3 linked regions of the Homo sapiens genome follow. The protein of the gene in region 1 purifies or fractionates together with the protein of each later gene. This does not show direct contact. Each region holds a gene or a part of one and is shown in the gene's direction. Other genes may lie near its edges.

What was found.
Region 2: the proteins of EDEM1 (region 1) and UGGT1 purify together in Homo sapiens (affinity purification with mass spectrometry, with the first as the bait; 2 studies listed by BioGRID). This does not show direct contact.
Region 3: the proteins of EDEM1 (region 1) and MTCH1 purify together in Homo sapiens (affinity purification with mass spectrometry; 2 studies listed by BioGRID and IntAct, with this or other methods). This does not show direct contact.

What each region holds. Positions count from the first base shown.
Region 1 is NC_000003.12:5,211,707-5,218,730, forward strand, and holds part of EDEM1 (ER degradation-enhancing alpha-mannosidase-like protein 1), read left to right. Parts: intron 1-1,612; coding exon 1,613-1,816; intron 1,817-4,122; coding exon 4,123-4,212; 3' UTR 4,213-7,024. UniProt on the Homo sapiens protein: Extracts misfolded glycoproteins, but not glycoproteins undergoing productive folding, from the calnexin cycle.
Region 2 is NC_000002.12:128,171,183-128,178,206, forward strand, and holds part of UGGT1 (UDP-glucose:glycoprotein glucosyltransferase 1 precursor), read left to right. Parts: intron 1-22; coding exon 23-102; intron 103-1,390; coding exon 1,391-1,580; intron 1,581-2,598; coding exon 2,599-2,757; intron 2,758-3,590; coding exon 3,591-3,676; intron 3,677-5,631; coding exon 5,632-5,716; intron 5,717-6,649; coding exon 6,650-6,738; intron 6,739-7,024. UniProt on the Homo sapiens protein: Recognizes glycoproteins with minor folding defects. Reglucosylates single N-glycans near the misfolded part of the protein, thus providing quality control for protein folding in the endoplasmic reticulum.
Region 3 is NC_000006.12:36,983,190-36,990,199, reverse strand, and holds the start of MTCH1 (mitochondrial carrier homolog 1), read left to right. Parts: upstream 1-4,003; 5' UTR 4,004-4,026; coding exon 4,027-4,347; intron 4,348-7,010.

The sequences.
Region 1 (7,024 bases):
GGACCTGGACGAACCCTTTGGTATTACCTAATGTTCATATGTTCATCATTTCCCTCACAAGAACTACAGCCTACACAGAGGTCAGGCGACTTGCTCAAAGTATGGCGATGGCTGTGGCAGAGCTGAGGTGTGAACTGTGGTCCTGACTCCCTGTCTGGTGCTCTTTCCATCTCACCGCTCTGCCTCGTGCATACAGCCACTCTCGTGCCCCCTGCCACTTTCCTCAGTATGGCCACATAGAAACAGAGGGCAGGATTTCCAGGTTAGAAGATAGCATGGCAACTGAGAACTTGGGCAGAGGGTCAGAGATAGAAGCAGCTGTGATAAATTGTGTTTATCTAGTTCCGTGGTTCCTAGGCCTGGGGCTAGCTGGGTCCAAATCACCCTGGGGCCCTTGCTAAGATGACAGCCATATTAAGTCAGAATCTTCAGAATAAGCGGGCTCAGAAATCTGTCATTTTGACAAGTGCCTCCAGTGGTTTCACATGAGCCAGGTTTTGGAGCTGCTGGTCTAATCCATTAAGACGATACTCTTCTCTGTCTGGGGTCTTTTCACAGATGACTGCAGAGGTATGTCCACCAGCAGCCCATGTGATCTGTCCAGTGGGAAGACAGCTGTCCTGCTGTCGATTCCTGTGTGTGCAGTGGTTCTTGCTCTCCTTGCAGGTGGCTCAGTTCTGCTAAATCAGGCTGGTCAGAGCCTAGCTACATATTTCCATCCAGCAGCCACTGGTGTCAGAAGGACGTTAACAGGGCGAGTTTTAGAGTAAAAGGAAGGTGACCCTGGAGGGTGTGCTAGCTGAAAGAACCTAGAGTCTGGGGAGAGGAAAACCTGTGGTCTACCCTGTTCTTCTCTTGTTACTGTGTAAACATTGACAAGCTGCACTGAATCTCATTTTTCCTCATCTTGAAATAGTTTAGGTGACCAATAAAGTTTCAAAGAGTTTCTAGGTATTCATTCATTCAACATTCACAGAACACTTGCCTTCTCCTGCACTGTTGCATCCCATATTGGGTTAGATGTTCTTTCTAGATGCTCTTTCGTTCCGTGTCACATGCACCATTGAGGGAAAGGACTGTGCCTTGTGTCCATTGCGTCTTCAGAGCCCAACCCTTGTTGTGCAAGAAGTGAAGTGAATGTTGGCAGATGTGTTGGGCTCTGTGCTAGGCCCTGGGGAAATGGTGGTGGATAAAACTTGGTCCCTCCCTGTCAGCATTTACAGTTCAGGGTCTAGGTGTGTGTGAGGTTGGGTGTAGTTCTAGAATTCCAGCAGGAGAACTCTTAGGTAGCACATGGAAATCATCCAGTGAACTTTTATAGACTACCTGTGCTTGGGCCTTAGTTTCAGAATTTCTGAGTCTCTGCGTCTGGGCAGGGTATGTGTAGGGGAGAGGCAGGTCTGGGCATCTGAGTTTAGATGAAGCAGGTGATTCTGCCTTGCAGCCTGGGTTGGGCACCACAGTTGTCAGTCAATTCCTTTTCACCCAGTTGTCACTGAGAAGCATGAGGCCCAAGCAAATTCTACTCCCTGAGTAGCTGGGACACGCCCCCATGATTCAGTTCCCAGTGTGCTACAATTATTGGTTGTATCTTTTTCTCCGTTCCCTCTAGCTGTTTGATGAAGACAATCCAGTACACAAGTCTGGAACCAGATACATGTTCACAACAGAGGGACACATTGTATCTGTGGATGAGCATCTTCGGGAATTGCCATGGAAGGAATTCTTCTCTGAAGAGGGAGGGCAGGACCAAGGGGGAAAGTCTGTGCACAGGCCGAAACCTCATGAGTTAAAAGTCATCAACTCCAGCTCCAACGTGAGTTGCTTTTTCCAGGGGTGATTTGCATATAGAGGAAGAGAAGATACTATGAATTGCTTAGTTGTTCAGACTTCCTGACAGAAAATTGATGGTGTATGCAGATTGGGAGATTTGAAAACACCTCCTAAAGACACCATTTACATAGCTGTTGTCAGGGTATAGGGAAACCGCAGGAGCAGCGGTGGCATCATCACTGCTGGCTGCAGGTGCTGGTGGGGAGAGTGGCTACAGGATCCTGGAAGGGGGGAGCCTTGTGGGAGGAGCGAGCACTCAGCAGGAGCCACGGCTCAGATCTGACTTTCAAGGCCTTGCCTGGAGGGAGCCGGCAGAGTCAACATGTGACCCCTCCCCGCTCCCCCAGTTGCCTGCTGGAGCATCTTCTTGGCTGCCTGGGGCAGAAGCTGGAGGCCGAGGGAGCCTGTTGATATGATCCATCAGTGGACCTGGAGGGGCAAATGGAAGACATTCAGCAAAATCATTTACCAGCAGCAGAAGGGAAAAAAAGCAGTGATGGTCACGATGGTCCCAATGAAGATGCTCTTCGAAGTGCAGCAAACACCCACATTCATTTAAAGTGGGGCTTTACTCCACATGCCTAGATTGTCCTGAGAAGCAGCAGGAAAAATTTGGAAATGGAAGTCCTTGCATCCCTAGTGAAAGTATCAGGTAGTTGTGTTGATTTGAATCAAATAGGATGATTTGGAAGTGAGGATAGGGAAATGTAGGTCAGTCAAAATTTCAAATCTTGTTATCCCCCAGGGCCTTGGTGGTCAGGAGTTCGGCAGCCTCCCCACAGATGGGTTGCCTTGGCATTAGGGGTGCCCTCTCATCGCCGACTGTGCTTCAGTGCTTTTCCGTTAATGCCCCAGTGAAGGTCTTCACCATCAGTCTATGAAGTAAATCGATAGGCCAGAGTGTAGATAACCACCCCCGCCCCCATTTCCATCAGTCATGGAGCGCTGATTGAGTGGACAAAGCATAATCGGGAGGAAGGGGAAGGAGGGTGAGAGGGGGAAGAGTTAATAACAGCCAGCATTTGCAAACACATACCAGGGTTAGCCTTTGCACCATTCTAAACGCTTACGTACATTAATCTGTTTACTTCTAACAACAGCCCTGTGAGGGGTGGTTACTTTTAACATCTCCATTTTACAGCTGAAGAAAGGGAGGCACAGAGAGGTTCAGGTCCCACAGTGGAGCCAGGATTTGGACCCAGGCAGTGTCTTCTCTTTTAGGAAGGAGACATCTCTGACCTGCCATACTCACTAATAGATCTGATCCCATGATTCCAGGCACCAGGGATTCAGGCCCTCAGAAGGGCTCCCGGTTCTGGATAGGAGCATGGCCTAGTGGGGAATCCACTTCCATCCTAGGCGTTTGTCTGTAGTGCTGTTGAAACACAGAGGGTAGGGAGTAATCTCCAGAGAAAATCAAGGCAGGATTCCCTGAGGAGGTCACTTGCTGGAGATCCTTGAAGGATGAAAAGGGGTATCCCAGAAAGGGTGTTCAGGCAGAAGCAGTAGCACCTGCAAAAGCACAGAGATGTGGGCTGGTGGGGGCAGTCGGGACCAATGGAAGGACCGGCCAGTCTTGATCTTGCCAGGGATGAGGAGCAGGGTGTAGTAAGTTCAACTTACTACAAAGCGTGGGGAAAATGTTTCTTTGGAGATGAAGCAGATAATGAATGTATTTAGACAACTGCTTCCAGGGATGTCACAGTTGGTTAGTTCTCAAGATGTGCATCTGCTTTGAGGAAAAAAAGTGGTGGGGGTGGGGGGGTTTTAATTAAAGAAATAGTCTTAAGCATTTAGAGTTTAGTGAGTTGTGAATGAGAAAAACATAGCTCAGAAAAACACAGTATTTTCAAGTAGCAGAAATGTTTTCTGAAATTCTGGGCGGACTAAGGACCCCAGGGATGTGGCTTTCAGTCCTGGCCACGAAGCAGTTGCTGCGATGCCTTTTAGCTTCCCTGGATCTGCCATTTCTTTATAAAGTGAGTGAGGATGTTAAATTATGTCACTGGTCTTCACCTGAGGGTGATTTTGCTCCTCAGGGAACATTGGAACAGCGTCTGGAGACGTTTTTGATTTTCACAGCTGAGGCGTAGGAGTTGCCACTGGCACCTAGTGGGAGAGGCAAGGGGTGCTGCTGACCGTCCTGCAGTGTACAGGCAGCTTCCACAACAGTTACTTCCAAACGTCAGTAGTTCACAGGCTGAGAAACCCTGGATTAAGTCATCCAGTCACATTTCCTGAGAGAGCAACATATGAGTTTTTAATTTTCCCTCGTTTTTGTCTTTCTAGTGCAATCGTGTACCTGATGAGAGGAGGTACTCCCTGCCCTTAAAGAGCATCTACATGCGACAGATTGACCAGATGGTTGGTTTGATTTGATCTGCTCTCTGTGAGGCCTCATCTTGAACCAGACCTTAACGACCAAACCCAGACCATGCCAAAGTCCAGTCTGAAATGAAAGGGGACAGAAGTCTTGCTGTCCATGGTGGTGTAGGAATTTCTGTGCAACACCTCACCACGTCTGGTTAATCCTTGCACACTTCAGTGTTTCTCTCCTGTTCAATAAAATGCCCTGTTAAGGATATAATTTGAAGTGAGAAGATACATGGAAATTGCCCTCTTATGACATGTTGATGTTATAAGCACAATAGATGGGGCATCTTTGGATTGATGTTCACAGCTTTATACTTCAGAACCTAAGTCTCTTCACTTTGCTGGCACCTGCTATACTGGAGTATTGCTATGTCTTTAAAAAATTTTTTTTATTATATTTTATTTTTTTGAGACAGGGTCTTGATATTTTTTTGGGACAGGGTTACCTGGGCTCAAGTGATCCTTCTGCCTCAGCCTCCCGAGTAGCTGGGATTACAGGTGAGCACCACTGTACCTGGCTAGCTACTTCTTTGTTAGAGGATTGAGAATGAAATTTCTGCAAAAGGGCCCATGGTTCATTTGGTATCCCTATTTAATTGCATTGAAAATGTCATCCTTTCTGTTGTTAGATAATTGGGGTCTTCCCCTGATATCCAACCGTGATTTTGGATCACATGGGAGAAAAAGTCATCCAGTTTTTCATGTTTGCCTCAAGTAATCTTTACAGTGTTACAAATTATTTGCTTAAGAAGAATGGTCTTAACCAGAATTCTTAACAGATAGTCTCTTAGGTTATTATGTTATGGTCTAAGAGGTTAACTGACATCTTTTGGGTGGTATTTTGCATTTTGAATATGAACTTACCTGAGGAACTCCCATAGTTCCAGAATCAGGTGCCTTTTAGGGAGAGAACAATACCTAAGATTGTCTGAGCTTCCATCTTTCTCATATTTCCTAAGCAAGGATTCTCACTTCTGACCATATTTGGGTTAGAGTTCTGTTTTGTTTCTGTTTTCTGTGTCTAGTGCCAATTAGCTAAATCAGGGAGAAAGAAATGATCACATGACTTTTAGCATCCTTGAGCCATTTCTCTGTGTAATACAGGCTTTAGATTAGTGCCTTATATTGGTTTTGGTTTGGGGCACTGGATGTCGCAGCTACTGCTATGGTTTCAGGAGGCCTGTTTAGCCACATGGTGAGACCGTGGTGAAAGGGGGATGGAAATTGCTTGGCCAGTCTTTGCCTTTCATCCTGTAAAAGTAAGCATGTAGAAGGAGGAAGTTGTGCTAAAATGCCTTTGTTTTTTTGTTATTATTTTCTTAGCCAGAACATCTCTCTTTGAACTCACACTGATACACACCTGCTACTCTTACACAGTGCAGCAGGGTTGACTCTTAGTCTGGCTTCCATGAAGCGTCATGGGTGGAAACGCATTCTAGTAAAAAAGGTAGGAAATCCCTAAAACTTCCAGCCTCACATAGCACGGTTCTCACCTGTCACTGTTTTCCCACCTCTAAGGATTTCATGTACATCTTTTCAAAGCTAGAAATAAGCACTGTCTAAGTTTATGTTGCATTTTTAGTCAAAAGGGAGAAATCTTATTCCTTCTTGAAAATTTTAAGTGTTATGGTTTTATATAGTTCAGTTCTTTGAGATTTTTGAAAAGAGTATTTTCAGTAATAAACGTGCCATCTCTATCTCTTAAACATTTATTACAACAATTGTTTTAAAATAGAAAAAATAAAATGCTTCTATTTTACCTTTTTTCATTTCAGAAGCATTATTCTGTTTATTAACAGTGTCCCATCTACTGAATAGAAAACTTTGAGAATAATATATATATATATTTTAAATGTTTTCACTGACTCATTGAAAATGTTAATTACACACACATGCATGCATGCACACACGAGCATACTTGTACCTTTGTCTCTGGGCAAACAGGTGGGACTGTTAGTGACCCATTTGGGAAAATAGAGCATCTCAGAGAAGGAGGTGAGTTCTTCCTGCCTGTGATTTCTCTTGGCGCTCCCCTCCTCTCCCGCTCTGGCTTCTGTGGCGGCAGTGGTGGGTAAGCACTCCAGTGTTCTCTTAATGAGGCACTTTGCCTGTCACTCGAGCAAGCCTGGGTGTTCCTTCCTCCTCATGCTCCTGGAATAGGGAATAGGGATCTCATGCTTGCAAACTACACAATGCTGCAGGTGCTTCCCAGGGGCCACAGGCTGTCAGGAAACGTGTTTTATGTTAAGTCACAAACCCACTTGACTTCTGGGTACTGGAATTAATACCAGTGGGTGAGACTGAGGGTGAGTGAGTTAGTACATATTAATCCTGGTTGTTGAGCTTCCAGACTACCCCGTCCAAAGTTTGATGCTATGTAGTCAGTGGTTTGTGGGGCTGGATGCCAGAAGGTTCTTTGAGCCAGTTTCAAAGGTTACTTGTTTTTTTTTTTTTTTTTTAAAGTCAGAATGTTAACAGCTGTGATATATCCTGCAGGGCTTTTGCAGTTTCTTCTGTTCTGTGTTCTGAAATACTGGGTAGAGAATGGCTGAGGAGGAGATTACCAGAGAAGTTGCTTTGCTCAGTGCTTTGCCCCAGGATTGCCTCAAATCTGAGTGGACTTCATCCTTTGCGGCGGCTCTGAGCCTGGCCCATCTTCCTATTCCCACGTGTAGCTAGTGTCTAGTGTCAGCTTTGCTCAGTGTGGTGGAAACATTTTGCAGAACTGTTGTAGAAAGCTGCCTTATAGTTGGCTTGACAAAGCATAATTCTCTCATAACAAACTTTCAAATCATTACAGTAGCTTAGCTACTTTAGT
Region 2 (7,024 bases), on another chromosome or scaffold:
TGTCATCTGGTTTTCCTTCTAGGTTTTGGCTCAGCTGATAAACATGAATCTGAGAGTATTTATGAACTGCCAATCCAAACTTTCTGACATGCCTTTAAAAAGGTAAAACATGCTATGTAAGAAAACAGTTGAAGAAATTGTACTGAATCCAAGTTCTGATATTGCATGTTAGAGGATCAGATGGATTTATAGGTGGACATCATGTTTGAAATGGTCATTTACTAAATGTTCAGTTTTGCCAAATTTCATTCTAATCAGAAGTTCTAAGAACATAGTGTGTTTGTAGCATTTAGGTGGCATTAACCCAGGCTGCTTGCATTTGTGCCTTTTCTTTCTTTTTTTCGAGATGGAGTCTCGCTCTGTCGCCCAGATTGGAGTGCAGTGGCATGATCTTGGCTCACTGCAGCCTCTGCCTCCCGGGTTCAAGGGATTCTCCTGCTTCAGCCTCCTTAGTAGCTGGGATTACAGGTGCACACTACCATGCCCAGCTAATTTTTGTATTTTTAGTAGAGACGGGGTTTCACCATGTTGACCAGCCTGGTCTCGAACTCCTGACCTCAAGTGATCCGTCTGCCTCACTTCCCAAAGTGCTGGGTTTACAGGTGTGAGCTACCACGCCTGGCCCCATTTGTGCTTTTCATCTTAAAAGAAGAATATTCATTTCAAGTTGGAATATACATGTTAGAGGAAGCTTGCTTAGCTATATATTGTCATGAGCTTTGGAATGGTCATTTATGAAAAAAGTGATACAGAAAGCAGTTAGCGTTGTGGCTATGGGAAATTTCTAACTTGCCAGTGTGCTGTGTTTTATAGGTTAGCTTCTAAGTGGATTGAAACAGCATTTGAAAGTAACCAAAGGGTTCCCAGCTTCCACCATTATTCTCGTATAGGGGAAATGTTTACATTATTAGTGTTTTCAGGACTAGCCTGAGAGCCCAATCAGTATTTAGGAATTGGTTTTAAAGAGAAAAATGAGTCCTCCTTGAAGGGAGGAAAATGCCCAGGACCTAACTGTGACCCTGACAGCCATCCATGTGAACGAGTGGCCTCCGTTCAAGTGATTGGATTTTGGCTTGCAGGTGGACAGTATAGTGGCTGCTGAGTATGAGCTAGAGTACCTGTTACTAGAAGGTCATTGCTACGACATCACCACAGGCCACCACTGAGCACTCCTCCTCAGTGCTGTCCTTGTTTGCCTTTTCTTGCATCTGCAGCAACCACAAGGAGGCATCATAAGGTCAAAGATGGTTTTGGAAACACTTTTCCCAATCTGGAAGGGTACTCCTCCAAATCTAATTTGTTTTAACCAGTTGTTACCTGTGTAAGGGCTGTGCACTCAAGTCCTGTTGTCACATCGAAAATTATCTAACACTTTCCTTTTCAATTTCAGCTTTTACCGTTATGTCTTAGAACCAGAGATTTCTTTCACTTCAGACAATAGTTTTGCTAAGGGTCCAATCGCAAAATTTTTGGATATGCCTCAGTCTCCACTGTTCACTCTGAATTTGAACACACCTGAGAGCTGGATGGTAGAATCTGTCAGAACACCATATGATCTTGATAATATTTATTTAGAAGAGGTAAGACCATATCTATTGCTTCCAAATACCTAATCATGTATAATACAGCAGATTGAATCATAGTCTAGGTGGGCCTCTGAGACATCAGTGTTCAGGTATGATATTTTTTTAAACAACAGCTTTATTCACATGGAACTCATATACCATAAAATTCTCCCCATTAACGTGTACAGTTGAGAGGTTTTAGTATCTTCACGGAGTTGTGCAGCCATCACCACTATGTAATTGTAGGATGTTTTCAGCATCCCCAGTGAAAGCCCCATACTCATTAGCAGTCACTCTTCATTTCCCCAGCCCCTGGCAACTGCTGGTCTACTTTGTATCTCTATGGATTTGCCTATTCTGACATTTTGTCTAAATAGAATCAAATGTGGTCTTCTGTAACTGGCTTCTTTCACATAACAAATTGTTTTCAAGATCCATCCATGCTGTAGTATGTATCGACGCTTCACTCTTTTTAACTTGCCAGATAATATTTTATTTATGGACATATCACGTTTCATTTATCCTTTCACGAATGGACATTTGAGTTGTTTTCACTTTTTGGTTGTTATGAATAATGCTGCTATGAATGTTGTGTGCAAGTTTTTCTACTGATACGTGAGTACAGGATGTCTTTGCATTTAGGTCTTTAATTTTTTTCAACATTTAGTATCTTATCCTCGTTCGTATTTTTAGAATAACGTCCTTATTGTTTTTTTCTCCTTTCTCTTTCCAACCTAGTTTTTATAATTGTATACAGTCATTAACCACCACTATAGCCACGATGCAGAACATTTCCATTACCCCAAAAAGTTCTTTTATACCCCTTTGCAGACAGTAGCCTCCTCTCGCCTGGTTTCAGGCAACAACTGATCTGCTTTCTGTCATTATACTTTTGTCTTTTCTTGAATTTCTTAAAATATGATCATATATTATGTAAGTCCTTTTTGTCTGCTTCCTTTACTTTGCATAATGCATTTCAGATTTATTCATGTTGTCTCTGAGTGCATTCAAGTGATTGGATTTTGGCTTGCAGGTGGACAGTGTAGTGGCTGCTGAGTATGAGCTGGAATACCTGTTACTGGAAGGTCATTGCTACGACATCACCACAGGCCAGCCTCCACGGGGACTACAGTTTACCTTAGGAACTTCAGCCAACCCGGTCATTGTGGACACCATTGTTATGGCCAATCTGGTAAATAATCTGTTCATCAGATAGTGATATTGTAGTTACGTTAATTTGGGCACTATAATTTATGATGGAGCAATTAGCATTCTTAACCATAGAGTGAGATTAAAATTCATTATGGGCTGAATTTGGTCAATATAGAAATCATTAGTTCAGCTAAATTTGTAGGTTAGAATTACATGTCAAAAGAAAAAACATGCTGGAATACTCAGCTATAACTGAATTGGCCCCCTGAAAATAGATTGCTCATGAGCTGACAGCCTTTTTCTTTTCTTTGGAAGTGCAACACTTATTCATGCATCACACGTTGATTCTTCCCTGAAGCACAGCTAAAGAGCAGATGATTTATTGGTGTGACTGGCCTTTATTGTACTAGTTTTTTTTTTTTTTTTTTTGAGACTCCTGCCCAGGCTGGAGTGCAGTGGTGTGATCTCAGCTCACTGCAACCTCCGCCTCCCAGGTTCAAGCAATTCTCCTGCCCCAGCCTCCTGAGTAGCTGGGATTACGGGCACCCACCACCATGCCCGGCTAATTTTTGTCCTTTTTTAGTAGAGATGGGGTTTCACCATGTTAGCCAGGCTGGTCTCGAACTCCTCACCTCAGTTGATCCACCTGCCGTGGTCTCCCGAAGTGCTGGGATTACAGGCGTGAGCCACCGCACCTGGTCTGTGCTAGAGTTTTTAATGTGTAGTTTTGGTTTTTTAAGAGTTGCATTGATTTGTTTACTGTGTTATTCACATTATAGTTGATTGATATTTCAGAAATAGAAGTAACTGTTCCTCAGAAATAACATTTTGGTGTTTTGAAGAGAGCTAACTGGACTTTTCTTCTTGTCCTAGGGCTACTTTCAGCTGAAAGCCAACCCAGGAGCTTGGATCCTCAGACTTAGGAAGGGACGCTCTGAAGATATTTATAGAATTTACAGGTAGGAGTAAGTGATGCAGTTACATTATCCCAGAACTTTTAGAAATGAGCATTAGCTCTAATTGAATACTACCCTGGCAGTTAGCCAGGCAACATGAATTTAATTTGCAGTTGTATGTGATGAAACAGTGGTTTTTCCAGGAAATTAAATATGGAAGAATTGTTAGAATAGAATTAGATAATAAGAGGTATAGATGCTAATGAGTATAGTCAGGCTTTATTCTTTAATTATTCCTTTGTGCTAACAATATCCCAGAATCAAATCATTCTATCAGTGTGATGCGGCTCATAGATAGGCAGATGAGAAACTTGAAGAAAGGAGAAAAGAAAGAAAGAACAGCCACACTTTTCTGCCCAGAGAGTGTATGTGTTGACCCTGAGTGATTTGCAAATGCACAGTACATGGAAGCTTTGGTCTTGAAGCTGTGCTGTTAGTGCTGGTATTCCTTGGTCTGTGGTGGCATAGTAAGAACATTCCCTCTATAGCCAGCTTTTACCTTAAGGTTTACTGCACATATTTATTAGTTTAAAAATAATTATGTTGCCTTTAAAAAAGTTTGATATAAATTCTGCTTAACACAATTTAAATTAGTTTTAAACTGTGTGAAGAGGCTTCCCGTCAGGTTGTGTAGGGGATGATTTCCATTAGGGCACATTTGAAGCACTCTGTAGTATGTCCTTGCCTTAATTAGCTCCGTAGCGACACACATGAAACAGTGGATTAGTGCCTGGTTCTTACCCAGGAAATAGAAGAATTCTGTATTATAATAACACCATTGTAAACAGTAGAAGGTTTTTTCCCACATAACATTTTCCTCAGATAAGGTTTTACAAAATTTGGGATGCACTTCCGAACTCCTTCCCTTTTGGATGCCCTGGCCCTTGCCAGCCCTCCCCTTCCCAGGAGCATGGTGCCCCCTCTTCCTAGCTGTTCAGGGCCCCACCCCCATTAGAATCTTCCTTTGCCTGAGAACCCTACTCTCTGCTAGATGACAGCAAATGCAGTGAATTCATGTTGTAATTATGACTTTCTGCACCTTGAAATTTGGTGACTGGAAATTTTAGGCATTGCTGTTGATTAGTAGGGAAACATACATTTAATTTTTCTTCCTCTGCTCCTGTCTGCCTGCAAATAGAATTTGTTACAGTTTTTCTGGTAGCGTATAGACACCAGGTTGAGTACAGGGCCTATTGTTGACTGATTGTTGCCTCCGGCAGAAAGAGCGAGCAGATTTCCTTTACAACACTATTCCAGTTAAAGAGTAGTGGCCGGGAGTGATGGGTGATGGCTCACGCCTGTAATCCCAACACTTTGGGAGGCCGAGGAGGGTGGATCACTTAAGGTCAGGAGTTTGAGACCAGCCTAGCCACTATGGTGAAACCCTGTCTCTACTAAAATACAAAAATTAGCCAGGCGTGGTGGTGGGTGCCTGTAAACTCAGCTACCTGAAGGCTGAAGCAGGAGAATCACTTGAACCCCGGAGGTGGAGGTTGCATTGAGCCGAGATTGCTCTACTGCACTCCAGGGCAACAGAGCAAAACTCTGTCTCAAAAAAAAAAAAAAAAAAAAAAAAGAGCGGAGGCAGTGTGGTTCCAATAATGGTTCAGGGGGCCTGTTCCCTGCATTCCTTTATCGAAGGCTCTGTGCTTGGCTCAGAGCTTGTGAACACAGGCGGTTGTTTAGTACTCACCATGTGGTTACCACACATGGGTGCCTCTCACTACGTGATGGGTAATTTGCAAGAGGACTCACAAAGGAGGTTTGGGCATGCACCTTATATAAAGAGAGGTTTCAACACGTGCTTCTGTGCAGCTCGAAGGAGCTTAAGGAGCAAGAAGATAGCTGGATCTGGAAAACTCCTTTATGAGAAGGATGATGGACTCAGATGCTCTGAGAGCATTTGCTGCCTTTTGAGAATTGTGCCTTGTAATATTGATCTTTCTTTTCTCGCAAAGCCACGATGGCACTGATTCTCCCCCTGATGCTGATGAGGTGGTTATCGTCCTCAACAACTTCAAAAGCAAAATTATTAAAGTGAAGGTGAGTTTGGTAAAAGTAGTGGCATTCTGTTATTGGACAGCTGTCATTTAAAAATATGTATCTTGGAACCAGCCCAAGAGTCTCTTTGGAATTTGCTATGGCAATTATAGGGATACTGCTTTAAGGCAAAATGTCTTTGTAACTGTGAGTTTGTGGCTTCCCTCAACTGAAAGATTGTACCTTTTGGGTAATCTCGGTGTGCAGAACATGTCCCATCTTATATAAAATATTCTCATAGATGCTATGTTGTTTATATAGCCACAATTCATAGTGTTGTTGATGATTCTTTTCTCAATATTGGGGGAACTGGCAATGGAAATTTTCAACAATAATAAAATGATAGTCCTATTTAATTTCTTTTGACTTGTACTTTCCGTTCTCTGAATGTTGAAGCTCTTAGTGCCTTAAATTCAAGTACAGTATATTCTTGAAGAAAGAATCATTACACACAGTGAAACCTAAAATAGGCCATCCATTGTTGAGAAGAAAAATGGTCACTGTACTGCCAAGAAGAAACCCCTGTTTGTGCTAGTGAATCCTGAAAACTGGTCATAACATGAAATACCTCCCTCCCAACAGCTAGAGCCCCCAGCAGCCACACTCTTCCCTGGAACTAGCTGTTGACTCATTGAATCGTGCTTCTGGTTTCACTGCACAGTTGAGTTTGCGGCTCTTTGCCTATGTTGCAAGCTGAAAATGGGGTTCATCTAATTAAAAGAGGTTGCTGTCTCCTCACATAAGGTTATGATGTGAATGTCCTGGCGAAGATACTTCTATTGAATCCTTCTAGACTCTGGGTGGGGTTGTGCCTGTTTGTGAGAGAATTGATTGATAATTCCCTATTGATGACAGGCTCACAGTGTATATCCAGTGAGAGGCAGTTTTATGCCTGTGAGACATACTGGGAGTAAGGTTTATCACATTTGATTGCAGGTTCAGAAGAAGGCAGATATGGTGAACGAAGACTTGCTGAGTGATGGAACGAGTGAGAATGAATCTGGATTTTGGGATTCCTTCAAATGGTAAGTTGACATTGTAAGAGTTATGTTTTTAAGGAAAAACTGAGATATAAGCACCATCCATCCCTCCTTTTTGCATCTTGTGATTCTGTCTGGGCCTTTCACATTCTACTTTGTGCAGCTACATCTCACACTTATATTTGGCATAGATGAGTATTTTCCACTCGATTGATCCAAAAGAGGTTCATGTCTCCTAGTGGGGAAGTTACTTCTGCTCCATACTTTGTGACTCTCATTGCCTGTACCTGCTCTTTGGAAATTTGACTGCTCCCTGCTCAGTTTACTTCCC
Region 3 (7,010 bases), on another chromosome or scaffold:
ATCCTCCTGCCTCAGCCTTCCGAGTAGCTGGGATTACAGGCATGCGCCACCATGCCCGGCTAATTTTGTATTTTTAGTAGAGACGGGGTTTCTCCATGTTGGTCCAGCGCTGGTCTCAAACTCCTGACCTCAGGTGATCCAGCCACCTCGGCCTCCCAAAGTGCTGGGATTACAGGCGTGAGCCACCACGCCCAGCCTTGTTGTTTTCTTTTTAAGAGGGTGGGGAGAGGCAGAGGCAAGTGGAATTGGAACCAGGACCTAAAGTCGGCTCCTTTTGCAGCTTGGCTTCTGGGTGGGGTTGATGTCTGAGGGTGGGACCCCAGGGATCCAAGACAGAAGAAAAGCCAGTGTTTCCACTCCCACCTCGCCCTCACCCCAGACAAGCAGGTGATCAGAGGCAGCAACCGGAACTAGTTCTCACCCAAAACTAGTAAACAGGAATCCTACATCGAAATGAGCCCATCTTCTTTACACCAAGGTTGATTCTCCTTACACCTTGTGCACCTTCCCTGGAGCTATGGTTTAAATGTTCCTGCCAAAACTCAAGTTGAAATTTAACTGTCAATGTAATGGTATTAACGATGGGAACTTTAAGAGGAGATTAATGCTCCTATCTCAGGAGTGGATTAGTGATCTCAAGAATGGGCTTCAGAAAAAAGGACAAGTTCAGCCCCCGTTTGATCTCTCTGTCTAGTGTGCTCACTCCGCCTTCCACCTTCTGCCATGGGATGACCCTCCCCAGACGCTGATGCCACGTTTTTGGACTTCTCTGCCTCCAGAACTGTGAGAAATAAGTTTCTTTTTTTATAACTTACCCAGTCTGTAGTATTCTGTTAACAGCAGAAAACATCAGGTGAGGCCAGAACTCTGATGCCGCCCTTGACATCACCTTAGTTCCCTCCTGACTGGATCAGTATGATGTCAAATTAATTGCAATGGTGGGTACTTACTAATTTGCATTTACTTTTCATTACAACATATCCCACAGGATTCCAGGGACCTGGGATGGTCTGTATTCTTGGCAGTTCTCAAGATCTACGAGTCTTATTTCCTGTTAACTTTTTTCCTTTTGCTTGATCCTATCGGGCACATGGATCTTCCTAAAGTTTTGATTCTGTAATTAGTGCTACCATAAAAAACTGTACAATTTTGGAGAGTGTTTTTGCTCAGTCATTCATTTTCTAGTAATATTTGTTGTGTTCCTATCATGTGCCAGGCATTGAGCCAGGCTTGGGGTTCAACTATGAATAGAACAGTCCTGGCTGTCAAAGAGCTTACAGTCTAACAAGGGAGACTGACAAGAAAACAGGCAGTCACAGTGCAGTGTGGTCAGCACTGCATATGTGAGGTGGCATATGCAGAGGGTGGTGGCACCGAAGTGGGGGGCACTACCCAAGCCCAGAGCTTACAGCCTTTTTTTTTTTTTTTTGAGATGGAGTTTCACTCTTATCGTCCAGGCTGGAGTGCAGTGGCGTGATCTCGTCTCACTGCAACCTGTGCCTCCTGGGTTCAACTGATTCTCCTGCCTCAGCCTCCCGAGTAGCTGGGACTGCAGGCATGCGCCACCATGCCCAGCTAATTTTTGTATTTTTAGTAGAGACGGGGTTTCACCATGTTGGCCAGGCTGGTCTCGACCTCAGGTGATCCACCCGCCTCGGCCTCCCAAAGTGCTGAGATTACAGGTGTGAGCCACCGCGCCTGGCCAGAGCTAACTCCTTTATAGCTCTAAAGGTTTATTGCCAGGTTGCTCAGTAGCTTGACTGCTGAGGAAGATTTTCTTTCATTCAATCATTTCAGTGAGTATACTTTTCATTTCTAGATGTTCTGTTTGGCACCTTTTCAAATACACCTGTTTTTTTTTTTCCTTTACAATTCCTGTTCTTTTTACTAGTACTTCCTATTATTTATCTTTGCCTTCATTTGAAACCTACTTCTTTCCTTTTAATTTTCTTTGAGATGGTTCTATTATCTCAAGTTCTTCCTGTTTTGCCCATTCTCTCTCATGATGGCACGTTTCTTTGAGCGGCTCATACATTTTTTATTGTGAGGATTCTTTTTTTCTTCCTCTTGGAGTCTCTGTGAGCCCTGAGTTGTAGAAATACAGCTATTGTGCAGTTTAACATTTGCTTCTGCTTGGTACCCTACGGGTCTAACTGGTTTAGCTGATCTATTTTTCCTTCAATTTCTTCACTTGGAGAAATTGTTCGATCATTTAGAAATACTTTACTGAACATGTACTATGTGCATAGTCCTATATCTGATGTTGTGGAAGATACAAAACAATGCAAGACAACACAAAGTTGCTGCTTCACATGAAACTACAGTTTGAAAGGGCCAAATACAGTATAGGCCCAAAGTTAGGTGACCATGTAAGGCAGAGTAAAAGGCTCAACGGTGAACAGCCAAGTTCAGAAAGAAAAACAGACAGTTGGAGAAAAATGGGGACGAAAAGCCCAAAGAAGGAAAAGGTTCCTGTGAGGAAGTTTCAGAAGGATGGGGAAGTAAATCATCCTCCCCTACCCCCACCCCCCACCCCCAAACTAAAACCTATCGCCTCTTCTGGGTAGAGAGTTAGTGTGGCACTAGGAACTTGACTTTGAGGTCCTTATTGAGAAAGCTAAATCAGAACCTAGGCAAAAGGAAGTCATTTAAGGTGCTCCTGGGGGATGTTTGATGAAAATTGTGTTTGATGGAGAAAACACAGCAAGTTGAAAGGGTTAGCAGGCTTTGCAAGTGATTTCACTAGGACAAGCCTGGGTTAGGGAGGCCAAGGTGAGGGAGAGAGGGAGTGTGGCATGCTTTGAACGTGGAAAGTACATAGTGTTCATTATCAGGAGTGGGAAGAGGGGAGGTAGCTTTTTAGGGGGTAAGGCAGGAAGGGAGTTAGAAAGGACAGACTGGGAAACCCGGACTAACAGTGGCAGGTGTCGATCTAAAGAAATTTCTCACAATGAACTGGCTATAGACTAAGTACAGACAAAGGGACCAGGTCTTCCATTGCTGTGTCCCTGCACACTCTAGGATCCGTTCAAACAGAAACTTTTATTGCGAACCCCCAAAACTAGCACGGTTCTGTTGTAGGTGTTGTTGCAGAGTGTCGGGCACGTTTACAAACAGGAACAGGGCACTTGCTGTCCTATCTTCCTCGCAGGGTTCTTGTGACGATTACACTTAAATCAACACGTATAAAGCATTTTAAAAAGTGCCTGTCACATAGTCCCTGCAATTTAAGGTCTAGTTGTGATTATTCACTTGTATTAACTAAGAATCAACTACAGGCGCCTAGCAGTGCCTGCATGTGCTCACACTGAGGCACTCACTAAAACCCTCAGGATCTAGTGAGGGAGACAGTCAAATACTTTAGAGCAAAACAAATTTTACAACCACGGACTCTGAGGAAGGCGTGCGAAGGCTCCACAGCTGGGGAGGGTGCCCACAGTCGCCGAGGGGACATCTGGATTTGCTCTGGTTGGGAGAGCATTCCTGGCAGAGGAGATGGAAAATGCGATCGGACAAAGAGGCTGGGACCGCGGAGGGGATCGGGCTCGGGGTCGGGGCTCGTCCTGCAGCAGGAGATTCAGCTCGCGCAGAGTTCCACGCAGGCCGCGGCGACTGGGATCTGGGCCGCAAAGGGGCGGGCAGAGAACTGCAGAGAAAACTCCCGAAGCCAGGGAGGTGGCTTGGAAGCGCCTCAGACCATATTGGGGACGTCTGGCAGCCAGAGGCGCCGAACCCCGCCCCCGCGTGCTCTGGGCATCCCGGGGGAGCGCCCCGGCCTGCGGCTGCCGCCACAGCTCCCGAGCCCGGGGCCCCGGCTGCCCGCCACCATTGACCCCCGGCCCGCAGCCCAGTGTCCTGCTAGGCCTCCAACCGGCCGGGGAGCCACATCCGGCGTGTCCCACCCGCCGCACCACGCTCCCGAGCTCCCCCGCGGCCTGGAGTGGTGCGCCCCGGCCCCGCCCCCTGACGCCGGTGAGGGGGCGTGGCCCCGTCACGTGACGGGGAGTGACCTCGCCGCCGGGCGCCATGGGAGCTTCGGACCCGGAAGTGGCGCCCTGGGCTCGCGGCGGTGCCGCGGGGATGGCGGGAGCCGGAGCTGGAGCCGGAGCTCGCGGCGGAGCGGCGGCGGGGGTCGAGGCTCGAGCTCGCGATCCACCGCCCGCGCACCGCGCACATCCTCGCCACCCTCGGCCTGCGGCTCAGCCCTCGGCCCGCAGGATGGATGGCGGGTCAGGGGGCCTGGGGTCTGGGGACAACGCCCCGACCACTGAGGCTCTTTTCGTGGCACTGGGCGCGGGCGTGACGGCGCTCAGCCATCCCCTGCTCTACGTGAAGCTGCTCATCCAGGTGGGGGACCAGAGGCGCCGTAGGGAGATGGGAGGCTGATGTGAAGGTGACAGGCCAGGATTTGGAGGATTGGGGCGGGCAGTCAATGGCGACGGATTTGGGGAGAGGGGTGGGGACGGCGGGTTTGGGGGGCCGAGTGGGTGGGATGGGAGGGAAGCCGTGAGGGAGTTGGGAACGCAGGGGTCACGGGTTTTAGGATACAGAAAGGAGACCAAGGGGTTAGAGTAATAACAGATACGGGAGAGGGTGGAAGGAACAAGCGATTTGGGGGAGTGCCAAGGAGGGAGCGATGGGCTGGAAAAACATATTTGGGAGATAAAGGAGTGGGGACGATGGACTTGGGATAGGGAAGGGAGCGAATTTGGGGCGAGGGAAGAAGCAATAGAATTGGGGGAGGGGCAAGAAGTTTGGGTGAAGAGATGGGGAGGAAGGTTGGGGGCCCAGGCAAAGTGTTTAGAGAATGAGGAGCACATAATTGGGGTAGAGGGGAACGGAGGCTCTGGATTTGATAGAGATGGATTTAAAACGTCTTGGGGTGGGGACAAAGTGGGCGCCAGGGCCAGAAATTTAGGAGGGAAAGAAGGACACCAGACTGGGGGTGGACAGAGGAGACGGAGGTCTTGGGTTGCATTGTGATTTAATTTGGTGGGAGAGTGCGAAGGCAAAGACTTTTGCAGGGGAATGCTATCGGTTTACCGGAGATGGGGGCTCTGGATTTGATGGCGACGACGGATTTGGTAGGAGGAGGGGACAGGGTGACGCGTATGGGGGGAGGGGAACAGATAGGGCCAGCATTGGGGGAGGGGAGTGGCAGCGATTTGTCTAGAGAGGGGAGCTAGGAGGAGGCTTTAAGCGGGGAAGGGGGATGACGCATTTGGAGGAGGAAATGGAAGTCATAGTTGGGGTCAGAGAGAGGAATCACAGTGCTTGTATCTGGGCAGATGAGGAGAAGGGGCACGGGAGTATTGAAATTGGGCAGAAGGGACAGTGGAGACATAGGTGGCAGGATAGGTAGGGACTACCAGAAATTGAGACCGAGGTAGGGATGTCTCTGGAACAGAGGGATGCATAGGCACTTGGCAGATTTGGTGGTGGCCAGCAATGCGGTACAGATGAAGTGTGCTGCTTGAGGAGTGAGCTGGAATGAAGGGCGTGTGGAGGTGTGAGAATTAGGTGGGTGTGGCTGGGATGGGTACAGTTTTGATGGGGGTCATTAGGCCAGAATTTTCCAGTTAAGAAGCTTGGGGGGAGGAAGGTAAAAATTGAATTGGAGACCCATCCAAGATTTGAGTTGAGGCAGGTGGGTGTCAGATTTTACCATCTTTATAATTGAACCGAGAGAATGCAAAATACAACTGGAATGAGAAGGCCTTGAGAATGAGAGTAATTGAAATCTGGGATCCGAGGAATGGTAATAGATTTGTGGGTGTGACCAGGAATATGACAAGGAATGAGGAGATTCAGTCAGGGGCATCAAGGTGCCTGACTAGACCCTAATTGTGACAGATTTGAAAATTGTTGATGGCGGAAGGTGTAGACCAGACTGGCATTTGGTTGTGATTTGGGAATGAGGGCTGTCTTACAGGGTTAAGATTGTATTTACAGCAGTTGAACTTGAAGTTTGGGAGATAAATTGGTGCTTTGGACCTGAGAAGTGAGGGTTCTGGAAACTGATGGAATGAGACTGAGTGAGGGCTAGGATTTTAGGGCACAGGTGGGAGAGTCTGTGGAGTGAAGGATACTGGAGCACAAGGGCTCAGTGTGAGGGAAATGAAGAAGTGGCTTCATCATTTGGATGATGGCAGATCTGGTTTGAAAGAACATTGAAATGAGGGTGGTTTGGGAAGGGAATGGGGGAATGAAGGACACCAAAGCGTGAGAAGAACTAGATGGTGGGCAGGTAAGGATGGATGAGCCCTGTTGAAGGACCAGAGGTGCCTGTCTGATTTGAACCCAGCTGGTGTTGAGTGTAACATATATTAGGGTAAGATCTTCAATGGGTATAGTTTGGGAATCAGAGTAATAACTTGCAGAAAGGCAAATTACTGGGAGTGGGGGTGTCAGGAGTGGAGTGACAGATTTGGGGATTGTCTAGATTAGGTGCGTAAGAATGCAGTGCCTTAGATTAGTGCATGTGGCTGTCAGGTTTGGGAGTCGGAGATTTTAAGATGACAGACTGTCCCTGCTGGTATCTGATATAGGGCCACAGCATTTGCCGTAGTTAGGACTGGGTTAACAGATTTGAGGTTGAAATTGGGTTTAATGACTTGGGAACAAATAATTAAAACTTGAAGGCAGGAGGAATGGGGGTGAGATACAGCCAGTGTGCCTATGATAACCCAATAGAAGTTAAGAAAATAGATTCAACAGATTTGGGAGCCATGGGGATATGGGATAACGTTACAAATTTAAGTATGAAATTGGGGTCAGTGGGACTCCCAAATAGTGTTGACTAAACTGGATAAGGACAGCAAAAGAGCAGTTGTGGCGATTTGGAGTGGAGGAATAAAGGAATACCACCTGTATTTAAGAGAACACAGATCAAGACAAAACTTAATTCAGAACAACCTTGGAGCTTTTAACCCAGAAGGGAAAAGGTCTAGAAGGGAAGTACTCACTGCCTGGGTCAGCTGACTCACCCCTTTCCTCCTTTGCTCCACTGG